3 linked regions of the Homo sapiens genome follow. The protein of the gene in region 1 interacts with the protein of each later gene in a pairwise test. Each region holds a gene or a part of one and is shown in the gene's direction. Other genes may lie near its edges.

Region 1 (3,649 bases):
TGGTGGGAAAATGCACACATTTCTGAGGGGAGAGGGAAAAGGACTTGTTTTCCTGTGTTCTTGTTTTCAGAAAATGAAAGACTCATACTTGAGTGTGTTTATGTGAAGTACCTCAGATCCCTGAGTTCTCACGTTTACAGTTTCATCTCAAAAATAAGAAGCAAACCACATAAGTATAGGAGAGGTAAATTAAGTGGGGGCAAGGCAGTAGTGGACAGGGTTGGAAACTGCACTGGAAAATAGGGAACATGTGTATGTCATAAGGAAGGCAATGCAGCCCATCCCTACCTGGAATGCTGGGAAGTGCTAGGCAGGGCTGCTCTCAGCAAGACTGCAGCAGCTGCACCCAGACCTGGGGCTCTGGTAGGTACTAATGGTGATTATGCTCCAATTTACCTAATGAATTTGGTGGGACAGCAGAAAAGAAAGCTGGGAATGTACCAAGAGAAATTTTTGTTCAGGGCTGTTGGAAGTAGCTGTTAGCCTTGCTTCCACAAGGCCATTGCTGCTGTAATAAGAACTGCAAATCAGAGTGCTACAACATAAAACTGGGAAATATGGCCCTATCTGAATGCCTCTGTCCTATTTTCCGCTGGTGTATCAGTTAGTGCAGGAAGTAAAGAATGCTGGAAAGTTGAATCAGAAATTGAAAACCTTCTAAAATCTTACACAGATTAGCAGAAGTCACTTCTCCCAGTCTGGTATATTATTTCATAATGGACCAGGATCGGCTTCCTGCCTGTTGGTGGCTATCTGTAAACCATAAGTACAGGGGTCTCCCTAGTGGTTCTTCTCTGTCTTTTGCTGGGCAGGCTGTCTTCCTTTATTCCTGGTAGCATTCAGAGCATTAACCAGTGTTGATTTTGAAAATAGTAGTCCCTACAGGTTCTCACAAAGGAATGAATCCTGTTCTGATACAGTTCCCCTGCATACTGACATACTGGCCAAGGACTTGAGCAGCTGTGTATTTTTCTTTATCAACTAAAATACCAGGGAGATGGTCTTTTCTTGAAACCCAGTGGCCTGTATGTGACTGAGAGGAAAAGCTGGCTTGGTCCTAATGGCTGTTTCTCTGTACCTTTCCCTTCCCTTACCACCTTAAGCCCAATCCAGGTAGAGAATAGGGAGAGGCATTCTCCTCTCTATGGATTTGAAGTGAATCACCCCCACATTATTCTCACATGCTTTTCTTCTCTCACATATTCCTCCCTACTCCCCCACCCAATCATTGTGCTTATTTGTACAGATCTTATTGGGAATATTCTTTATTTATTTTGTCATTTCACTTCTATTTTAAGAATGCATAATTGAAGGAGTAGTCATTTTCAGGGAGCACCAGGTAGACCCTGGGAACCTAATGACTTAATCCTTAAATATGTTTTGCCCTTGAAAAATAGGCCTTTTCCTTCCTTCCTTAGTTATAATTGTGGAAGCTAATTAGGATGGCATGGAAGTGAATCTAATGAGTTAGGTATTATTAATGTTCTTGGTATCGGGTCTAATTCCAGTTACTGCTTCATTCTCTTTTTAAAGCTTTATGAATACTTCCCCCATCCTCCCCAAGGAGAGCTCAATACACACATATTTTTATTTTATTCTCTCAAAGGAATATTAGCTTAGGAAGATAGGAATTCAACATTGAGCACTGAGTTTTCTTCTGGCTCTGTCATTGATACACTGTCAAACCACAGCCTCATCTCTTAATCTATTTAATTAAGGTAACAGTACATGTTCTCAAGGGTGTTGCAAGTAAGTGTGCAGCTATCCCTTGGAGAGCCTCTCTGGAAAGCTCTTTTAGTGCAGTGTTGTTATGCTGAATTGTTTTCCATTATCTTATTTGCTGAGTAGAAAATATTAATGAAATTAAGAATTGTTGAGATTATATGAATTGGGCTAGAATACTAAGGGGAAAACTATGTTTTGAATAGAGTTTGGCATTTTTGACCAAGAACAAAATTGAGTTTTCATTGGAAAGAAAGGAAACCTTGATTCTTACCATTGCTGCTCCAAAGGAGGCCCAGGTTAAGAGGATTAGAGGAGACACGCGGTGCTGGGCATTCCTGGCAGGTGTTGGGTGATCCCCGCAGTATGTCACCTGCAGTTGCAGCACAGGCAGCTAGTGATTGGGTTCATCTCCTCCTAGTGGTTGGAAGAGAACTCAGATGTAAAAACCAGCGGTCCTTCTCCCACCTTCTTTCCTGCCATTCTTGCTCATCATACATGTCCGTAAACTTGAAGAACTCGTTTTAGCAGCTAGCCTTTTAAGGTCGAGGATGGGAAAGCTAAAACTGTAGAATATTATTATGCTGCTTTTTAGGTTTATCCCTGTTGTTGTGGGATGCAAGTTAAGGGATTGTAATTGTTTTTCAGGGTTTTTTTGTTTTTTGTTTTTTAAGCAAGGGCTCTATTTTCCCTTGAGAGTTCTGGAACTAAGCCTTGGAGAAACACTACTGAGTGTATTTAGGCTCCCTGGTTTTCTTGCCCAACAACAATCTGAAGGGTAGGGGGTGGGGGCTGTGTCTTACTCAGGGGCAGCACCTAGCTGTCTTGCCTACAGTGGGTGCACGATATATAAATGGAATTGATTTTTGTCAACACTGTCAAGAGTGGCATTGACTATTGGAGCATACCCCGTCCACATGATGCTTGAACTATGTAACTTCAGGGGTTGAGGGCTCAAGGTTCAGGTTAAAGAGGCACTGTCAACTTACTATACAAGCATAATTTAGGTTTTTCCTTTTTCTACTTGAAAAGGACCAGCTTAAACACAAACCCTTATGTAAATTAAAAGGTTTGAATCCAAAGCAGAGAGAACTGCTTCTGGAAAAGTGTAGTTTAATTTTAACTATTCTAAAAGCAATGAGCAAAGGCCCTTGTCCAAGGCGTTGACAGTTTTCTAAAGTGGTTATGCTGTATATCTGGATGCATGCCTTTGGGCTGCCACTGCTTGATTCCTTTCATGTACAGATAATATTACTTCAGTTTAGATTTCCCACTTTAAAATGCAGTGATTTGTGTTGAATACATCTTGATTGTGCTTTACCTAAAGTATTTTCTTAAAAGGCTTTGTGTAAAATTTAAATGTATATATTTTCCTGTAGACTTCCATCATGATTTTCAGAGATTAGCCTTAAAAAATTTGGCCCTAAGAAATTCATTCAGTGTTTTTCTAGATGACCTCTGTACATAGAGGTCATTATAGTGGAGACCCTTTACCAGCAGCATTTTAAGATTTAAATTAGATAGAAAGTTTCTTAGGATTCAACTGAAAATTGGCTAGTAAAATATGTCCCAGGTAATAAAGCATGCTGACTTTGCTAAGGCACTGCCCATTTTTATTTAACTAAAGTCATGGAGATTTTGAGTTTAAAGGATGCAGTATAGATAGTGGTTTAGTGTTTAGGCTCTAATGCCAGTCTAAAAGGCAAGTCATTTAACCTTGGGAGCCTCAGTTTCCTCACTGTAAAACAGGGATAATAATAGTAACTACCTCAGGGTTGTTGTAAGGATTAAATGAGATGATATTTGTAAGATACTTAGCTCAAGTGCCTGGCACACAATGAGCACACTCTATAAATGTTCTACTACTACTATTATTAACACCTAGTCTAGGGATGCACAGCAGAATCCCCTAGGGTTAAAAAACAAA
Region 2 (3,649 bases), on another chromosome or scaffold:
CACCCACCGCTGTCTCCCAAAGTGCTGGGATTACAGGTGTGAGCCCCTGTGCCCAGCCTCTCTTTAGCATTTCTTAGCACAGGTCTGGTAGTGATGAATTCCTTTAGTTTTTGTTTATCTGGGAATGTCTTATGTTCTCCTTCATTTTTGAAGGACAGTTTTGCTAAATATAGAATTCTTTGTTGGCTCTTTTGCTTTCAGCATCAGATCAGATTCTATCCCCTCCCCAGGGCTTATTACTGCTGCTTATTGTGAGTGGTTGTTGTTTGCTTGTTTAGTGACTTTACTAAACTACTTTTATAAGCTCTATATTCCTGGTCATGTGGGGCCGCTGAAGTCTATTCCATTTGCTTAGTAATCAGCTAGGGTTTTAACAGAGTTTCGTTAAACACCTGGAGCCAAAAGAAAAAACAAACAAACAAAAGAAAACCTCTCCCCATCTTTACAGATGGCTTTATGTTGGGGCAGTTTTTGACCACTTAGTGATGCCATTTATAATTCTGCCTTAGCCTTTGCTTACTGTTTGCTCAAAGCCTGAAGATCAGCCAGGGTGAAAGCTTAGGGTCTTCTTGGGCCTTTCCTGAATGTGCATCCAGCCCTGGCCATGTGCACGTCCTTCTTGATTGGTATACACACCCCTTATTACCCCATGTATATTCTTTCCCATCCCCTTTCTGTCCAGGCTTTTCCATCTGTCTGTTCCTTGTCCCAGTTGTTGTCCCTTGCCCCAGGCTGCTGCATCCATTAAATGATTTTTGCAAAAACCACCCAGGAAGACTCCCTATGCCTGGGAATGATTCAAGTCAGGCAAAGCCAAGGCAAGCCATTGCTCAGGTCCTTCAGGGAGCTGCCAGACAAGTTGAAACCCACAATCACAATTGTTTAAGAATGAGATCTGTATTGCTTCCTCTGGCATTAGGAGTGCAGGTTACTGTCCACACAGCCATCACTGACTTGGGGTGTGGGGGATGGTGGGCAGGCAACTTAGGATGCGATAGCACTCTCTTTACCACAAAGCAGCAACTTCTTTCTTTACCAAGCCTTGCCCTAGATTTTATAAGTTTTTTTTTTTTACTAGATTCCAGAGTTCTGCAAAAGTTGAGTCTGACAGTATTTACCAGCTCATTAATTGCATTCATTGCTTTTTGCAGGGACAGTGCCTTGGAGTTCCTTACTCTACTATTTTTGGTGGTATCACCCCAAATGTAGGGATTTCTCTGAAGGCTATCATTAACCGGAAGTAAGAAAATTAGGAAGGAAGAAGTTGATTTAGGGGTATAGACTGGATTATTTTTATTTGGACATGAGTGTTGGGTTTGAGGTACTGATGGCACAATCTGTGGGTGTCTAGTGACAGTTGGAATTGTAATGCCTGAATTCCAGAAAGGTCTTAGAGCTGCAAAGAGATCTGGGAACCTTCTGCACAGAAATTATAGAAAATGAAAGTGTATGATTTCCTTGGAATAGAGAGGAAGGTCAAGTATGTCATCTTGTGAAACACTTTCAGCTAAGGAATTCTTCATTTATTCATTCAGCATGTTTGCTGACTGCTGAATACATAATTTTGTTTTTCCTTTGTTCCTACTACTGATGTATGTACTGCTAAGCGTTGGAGACAGAAACGAATAAGATCTCGTTTTCTGCCCTCAGGAAGTTCACTCATATTGAGGAAGACAGACAAGTAAACAAGTACAATGCAGTGTTATAATAACAAGGTTAGAGGAGCCTAGACAGAGGTAAACAAGAATATGTAAACAGGTTGGGAGGGAAAATAAGAAATTCGGGGAAGTCAAAGAAGAAGAAAACATAATGGAGAGAGTGGGCTGTGATCTTGGTTGCTGCATATAGAGTTTGAGAAGGCTGAGGACTTTAAAAGTTACTGATTTGACAGTAAGGAGAGATGACATAAGAATGGTATTCATAAGAATGGTTTTAATTGAGTAGTTTTGTTAGAATGTTGGAGACAAAGGATCAGATAATAAAGAGTTGGGAGTGTGAGTGGTGAAAAAGTCGAGGGAAAAGGAAAAACAACCTTTTTTTTTTTTTTTTTTTTTTTTTGAGACAGAGTCTTGCCCTGTCGCCAGGCTGGAGTATAGTGACGTGATCTTGGCTCACTGCAACCTCCGCCTGCCAGGTTCAAACGATTCTCCTGCCTCAGCCTCCTGAGTAGCTGGGACTACAGGTGCACACCACTGCACCCAGCTAATTTTTGTATTTTTAGTAGAGACGGGGTTTCACCATGTTTGGCCAGGATGGTCTCGATCTCTTGAGCTTGTGATCTGCCCGCCTCAGCCTCCCAGAATGCTGGGATTACTGGCATGAGCCACCGTGCCCAGCCGGGAAAGACAACTTTTAAAAGAGTGGTATAGTTTATTCTATAGGAAAATTGGACCAGTTAGAGAAAAAATAAATAAATTACCAAAATGTTACGGTTTAAAAGTTGTAGCAGAGTTAAAGTAACTTCATTTTGGAGTAGAAAAGATATGAGTGTGTTTTTAGACAATTGAAGGGACTAAATAGGAAGGAAAACAAGGATGTCGAGAGTCCCAAGAGAGTCAGGAAAGATAGTATTAAGATCCTAGAAGGATCAGGATTTGGAGACTTGAGTGAAGAACGAGAGTGAGGATAATGAGAGTTTTGAGACAAAAGGAATTTGAGAAGTTTTACCTAGGGAAGCCTCAGTTTTCTAGGTAAAGTAGAGCATAAAATCACACGCTAAGAAATGGGCAGCAGTGAAAATGCCTGACTGAAGTTGATGTAGCGTACATTTGTATTGATAGTACCATTTGGTGATTTTCTCATTTCTTTCAACACATATGTGTTAAGCATTTACTGTGTACTAAGCACTATACAAGATCCTTGGGATTCTATCTGTAAACAAACAAAACTCCCTGTCCTTTTGGAGGTTACATATGACTGGGGTAAGGGGAGAAAAACAAATAATATTTTAAAATAAACATATGAGGTAAATAGAGCTACCTGGGTCTGGGAACCAAGAAAGCAAATGGGAAGATTAGCCAGACATAACTGCAATTTTATATTGCATATCATATTCTGATTTAAGATAGAAATAATTTTATTTTTATACAGCTCATTGTAGAATCTAGCTTGCTTAAACTAAGACAAGAAGAGTATGGGTGTGGTGGAGCCTTTGTGTACTTAGATTGTAGCTATGAAAGAAATCTATATTTACATTTAAGAGGGAATTCATTAATTTAGGACAACTTTATAATTATGTTATATAGTTATTTCAGGGCCTTTGACAAGAGAAAAGATGGTGAACTGTCATATAATAACAAATTAAATATTTATTTGGTTAAGAAAAAGAAAATTTGCATCTTATTTCCAAAAAGATGATTTTTAACTACATAGAAATTTGTTATATTTAAAAGCTTTAAAGATCTATATAGAGTTGAAGATCTCTTTTTAATAATGAATAAGTTCATTCTTTTGGTAATCATTTTTTTATATTCTCCTCTCATGGCCCTTTTTAATTTCAACAGGCATTGGAAAAGTGAAAAGAAAACCTAGTGTGCCAGATTCTGCATCTCCTGCTGATGATAGTTTTGTTGACCCAGGGGAACGTCTCTATGACCTCAACATGCCCGCTTATGTGAAATTTAACTACATGGCTGAGAGAGAGGATGAA
Region 3 (3,649 bases), on another chromosome or scaffold:
GTTCAAGCGATTCTCCTGCCTCAGCCTCCCAAGTAGCTGGGACTACAGGCCTGCACCACCATGCCTGGCTAATTTTTGTATTTTTAGTAGAGATGGGGTTTTCACCATGTTGGCCAGGCTGGTCTCCAACTCCTGACCTCAAGTGATTCTTCTGCCTGGGCCTCCCAAAGTGCTGGGATTCCAGGCAAGAGCCACCGCACCTGGCCTGGTATGGATTTTCTTTTAACTGCCCTGGGGCAGCCCCCAGAGCCATGCGAGCAAGGCACTGAGGGAATCAAATTGACCTTTTTCCCTCTGGCTGCTGTAAGAAATAAAGGTGGAGAAAGCAGTGAGATGATGGAGGCCAGGCCAGGGTGGGGGACTTGGAAGGGACAGATGTCCACAGTCGGGGCTATATGGCAGAGACACGGTCATCGGAGTTTCCTGGTGGGTTGAAGGGTGAAAGGCTAGCTCCCAAGTTCCAACACCTCATTCACCCCAGCACTGTCCCCACCCACAGCCCCCCTGCCCTCTGTCTGGGCACCTGCTTTGTACCAGGCCCAGGAGGTCAGTCCTGCAGGGGACACAGAGACAAATACCCATACCATGGCAGCAAACACTGGCACCAGATAGGTCCAGAGCATTGCAGGTACAGAGATGAAGGCAGCTGACCCCCAGGGAACTAACTACCCAGAGCTGGAGACCAGAAGCGCAGGCAGCCCGCCAGAATGAATGGTGAAGGGTTAGGCTGTGAAGAGGAGGGGAGGCTGGAGGAGTTGGCAGGGAACCGCTCATGGCCTTCAGTGCCAGGCGGAGGAGCTGGAACCTTGTCCTGACAGCAGTAGGGGGCTATGGGGAGATATATAGCAGGGAGGGTCATGACTGGAGTTCAAAAGAGCCCTTGGACTCCCAGGCGGAGGGTGGGCCTGAGCTGGGGGCACTGGAGGCTGGGAGCCCAGTGGGGACAGATCCTCCACCCAGTAACCAAGTGGCTTCTCTGGACCCAGTGACTCCCGTGGACTGTGGTGGCAGCAGCAGTGGCAGCAGCAGTGGAGGAAGTGGGACATGGAGCCGCGGTGGGCCCCCAAAGAAGGAAGAACTGGTCGGGGGCAAGAAGAAGGGACGAACGTGGGGGCCCAGCTCCACCCTGCAGAAGGAGCGGGTGGGAGGAGAGGAGAGGTGAGGTGTGGTGTGGTCATGCCCACCCTGTGCCCAAGCCCCAGCTCCCAGGCTCCAGGCCACAGGACTGAGGTCTCCATCTCTCCCTGGACCCCGCAGGCTGAAGGGGCTGGGGGAAGGAAGCAAACAGTGGTCATCAAGTGCCCCCAACCTGGGCAAGTCCCCCAAACACACACCCATCGCCCCTGGCTTTGCCAGCCTCAATGAGATGGGTAAGAGCCTGGGTTCTTGTAAGGGGGTGGGGGTTCCCTGGCCAAAGGGGTGAGCCTCCTGGGGCTGAGCGAAGAGACCAGGTTTCACTGGGCCAGTGAGTGGAAGGCCTTCCTGGGAAGGGAGATGGTGGCCCCTGGGGCGTGGGGGGTCATTTCCAGGGGCAGGGACCACCCTTCTCTGAGGCTTCTCCTGGAGACAGATTCAAGAACGATGCTCGTGGGTCTTGGTCTTGCTGTTGGAGGGGTCATCGGGGGCTGTCCCTTGGCACAAGTCCCCGTGGGGCCCTGGCCAGCCCTGCAGCGGAGTGATGGCCCTCTCCGGTTGCAGAGGAGTTCGCGGAGGCAGAGGATGGAGGCAGCAGCGTGCCCCCTTCCCCCTACTCGACCCCGTCCTACCTCTCAGTGCCACTGCCTGCCGAGCCCTCCCCGGGGGCGCGGGCGCCGTGGGAGCCGACGCCGTCCGCGCCCCCCGCTCGGTGGGGACACGGCGCCCGGCGGCGCTGCGACCTGGCGCTGCTAGGCTGCGCCACGCTGCTGGGGGCTGTGGGCCTGGGCGCCGACGTGGCCGAGGCGCGCGCGGCCGACGGTGAGGAGCAGCGGCGCTGGCTCGACGGCCTCTTCTTTCCCCGCGCCGGCCGCTTCCCGCGGGGCCTCAGCCCACCCGCGCGTCCCCACGGCCGCCGCGAAGACGTGGGCCCCGGCCTGGGCCTGGCGCCCTCGGCCACCCTCGTGTCGCTGTCGTCCGTGTCCGACTGCAACTCCACGCGTTCACTGCTGCGCTCTGACAGTGACGAGGCCGCACCGGCCGCGCCCTCCCCACCACCCTCCCCGCCCGCGCCCACACCCACGCCCTCGCCCAGCACCAACCCCCTGGTGGACCTGGAGCTGGAGAGCTTCAAGAAGGACCCCCGCCAGTCGCTCACGCCCACCCACGTCACGGCTGCATGCGCTGTGAGCCGCGGGCACCGGCGGACGCCATCGGACGGGGCGCTGGGGCAGCGGGGGCCGCCCGAGCCCGCGGGCCATGGCCCTGGTGAGTGAGGCGCCCTGCACCCAGGTCACAGAAAACCCCTTCTTTCCTCCTCTGCCAGGGTCGCAAGTCCAGCCCAGCCACGACCCCTCAGGCAGCCACCTCCTGCTTCTTGTGGAGGAGGGAGGGTCTGTGTCCCTTTACCGCTCACTCCTGGAGGCATCGGGGGTCTCCAGGGGACTGAGACACAGGCGGCAAACTGATGCCTATAAGGCCAGGCAGGTGCCTATAGCGGTTGTGACCAGCATGACCATCGCCAATTCTTACACAGCCTAGACACTGTTCTCCTCCATCTGTTAACTGGGTGGGAGATGCGGCCATAGCAGTGTTATTAAGTACCCACGTCAGGCACTGTGCTGCTTGTTTTAAGTTATGGTTATTCTATTTGCTCCTCACCTGCGTGGTGAGGCACCATTTTTATCCCCCTTCAGAGCTAAGCCATGCCTGAGCTTAGCCCAGTGCAGGAGAGTCGGGAAGACCAGGGCTTTGGCCCCCGAGGCTGCCGCTAAGCAGCAGTTCCAGAAGGTTGAGGAACATGCCAGGGTCCACCCAGAGGAGCAAGCAGCTGGGAGTGGTCCCAGTCTAGGTCAAGGTCCCAGCACTGCCACACTACAGATGGAAACTGGATGCAGCAAGATCCACGGATTTCTCGAGAGAAACCAGAACTTGTGCTTTTCATGTAACAGCTCTGGGCTTTTTAATGCCACCCTCTGCCCCACCCCACTCACCTCCTCTGAACCTCTCTTACCAGGCCCTCGTGACCTTCTGGACTTCCCCCGCCTGCCCGACCCCCAGGCCCTGTTCCCAGCCCGCCGCCGGCCCCCTGAGTTCCCAGGCCGCCCCACCACCCTGACCTTTGCCCCGAGACCTCGGCCGGCTGCCAGTCGCCCCCGCTTGGACCCCTGGAAACTGGTCTCCTTCGGCCGGACACTCACCATCTCGCCTCCCAGCAGGCCAGACACTCCGGAGAGCCCTGGGCCCCCCAGCGTGCAGCCCACACTGCTGGACATGGACATGGAGGGGCAGAACCAAGACAGCACAGTGCCCCTGTGCGGGGCCCACGGCTCCCACTAAGGCCTGCCCACCACCGCCCGCCTGGGCAGCCATGAATGTAGCGCCCCAGGCCCTGCCCCAGCCCGCCATGCCACAAGGTGGGGGAGGCCCTGGGCAGGATGTTCACTCTATTTATTGGGGAAGGAGGGAGGGGGGGGACACTTAACTTATTCCTTTGTACCCCAGGGGGTGGAGC

What was found.
Region 2: the proteins of ABL2 (region 1) and NCK1 interact in binary tests that used the Homo sapiens proteins (3 or more experiments, as listed by UniProt).
Region 3: the proteins of ABL2 (region 1) and MAP3K10 interact in a two-hybrid assay, tested with the Homo sapiens proteins (one large-scale study listed by BioGRID and IntAct).

Annotation. Positions count from the first base shown.
Region 1 is NC_000001.11:179,104,057-179,107,705, reverse strand, and holds part of ABL2 (tyrosine-protein kinase ABL2), read left to right. Parts: 3' UTR 1-3,649. UniProt on the Homo sapiens protein: Non-receptor tyrosine-protein kinase that plays an ABL1-overlapping role in key processes linked to cell growth and survival such as cytoskeleton remodeling in response to extracellular stimuli, cell motility and adhesion and receptor endocytosis.
Region 2 is NC_000003.12:136,942,080-136,945,728, forward strand, and holds part of NCK1 (SH2/SH3 adapter protein NCK1), read left to right. Parts: intron 1-3,503; coding exon 3,504-3,649. UniProt on the Homo sapiens protein: Adapter protein which associates with tyrosine-phosphorylated growth factor receptors, such as KDR and PDGFRB, or their cellular substrates. Maintains low levels of EIF2S1 phosphorylation by promoting its dephosphorylation by PP1.
Region 3 is NC_000019.10:40,211,819-40,215,467, forward strand, and holds part of MAP3K10 (mitogen-activated protein kinase kinase kinase 10), read left to right. Parts: intron 1-986; coding exon 987-1,158; intron 1,159-1,257; coding exon 1,258-1,370; intron 1,371-1,570; coding exon of another isoform or gene 1,571-1,698; coding exon 1,699-2,403; intron 2,404-2,831; coding exon of another isoform or gene 2,832-2,848; exon of another isoform or gene 2,849-3,083; intron 3,084-3,151; coding exon 3,152-3,474; 3' UTR 3,475-3,649. UniProt on the Homo sapiens protein: Activates the JUN N-terminal pathway.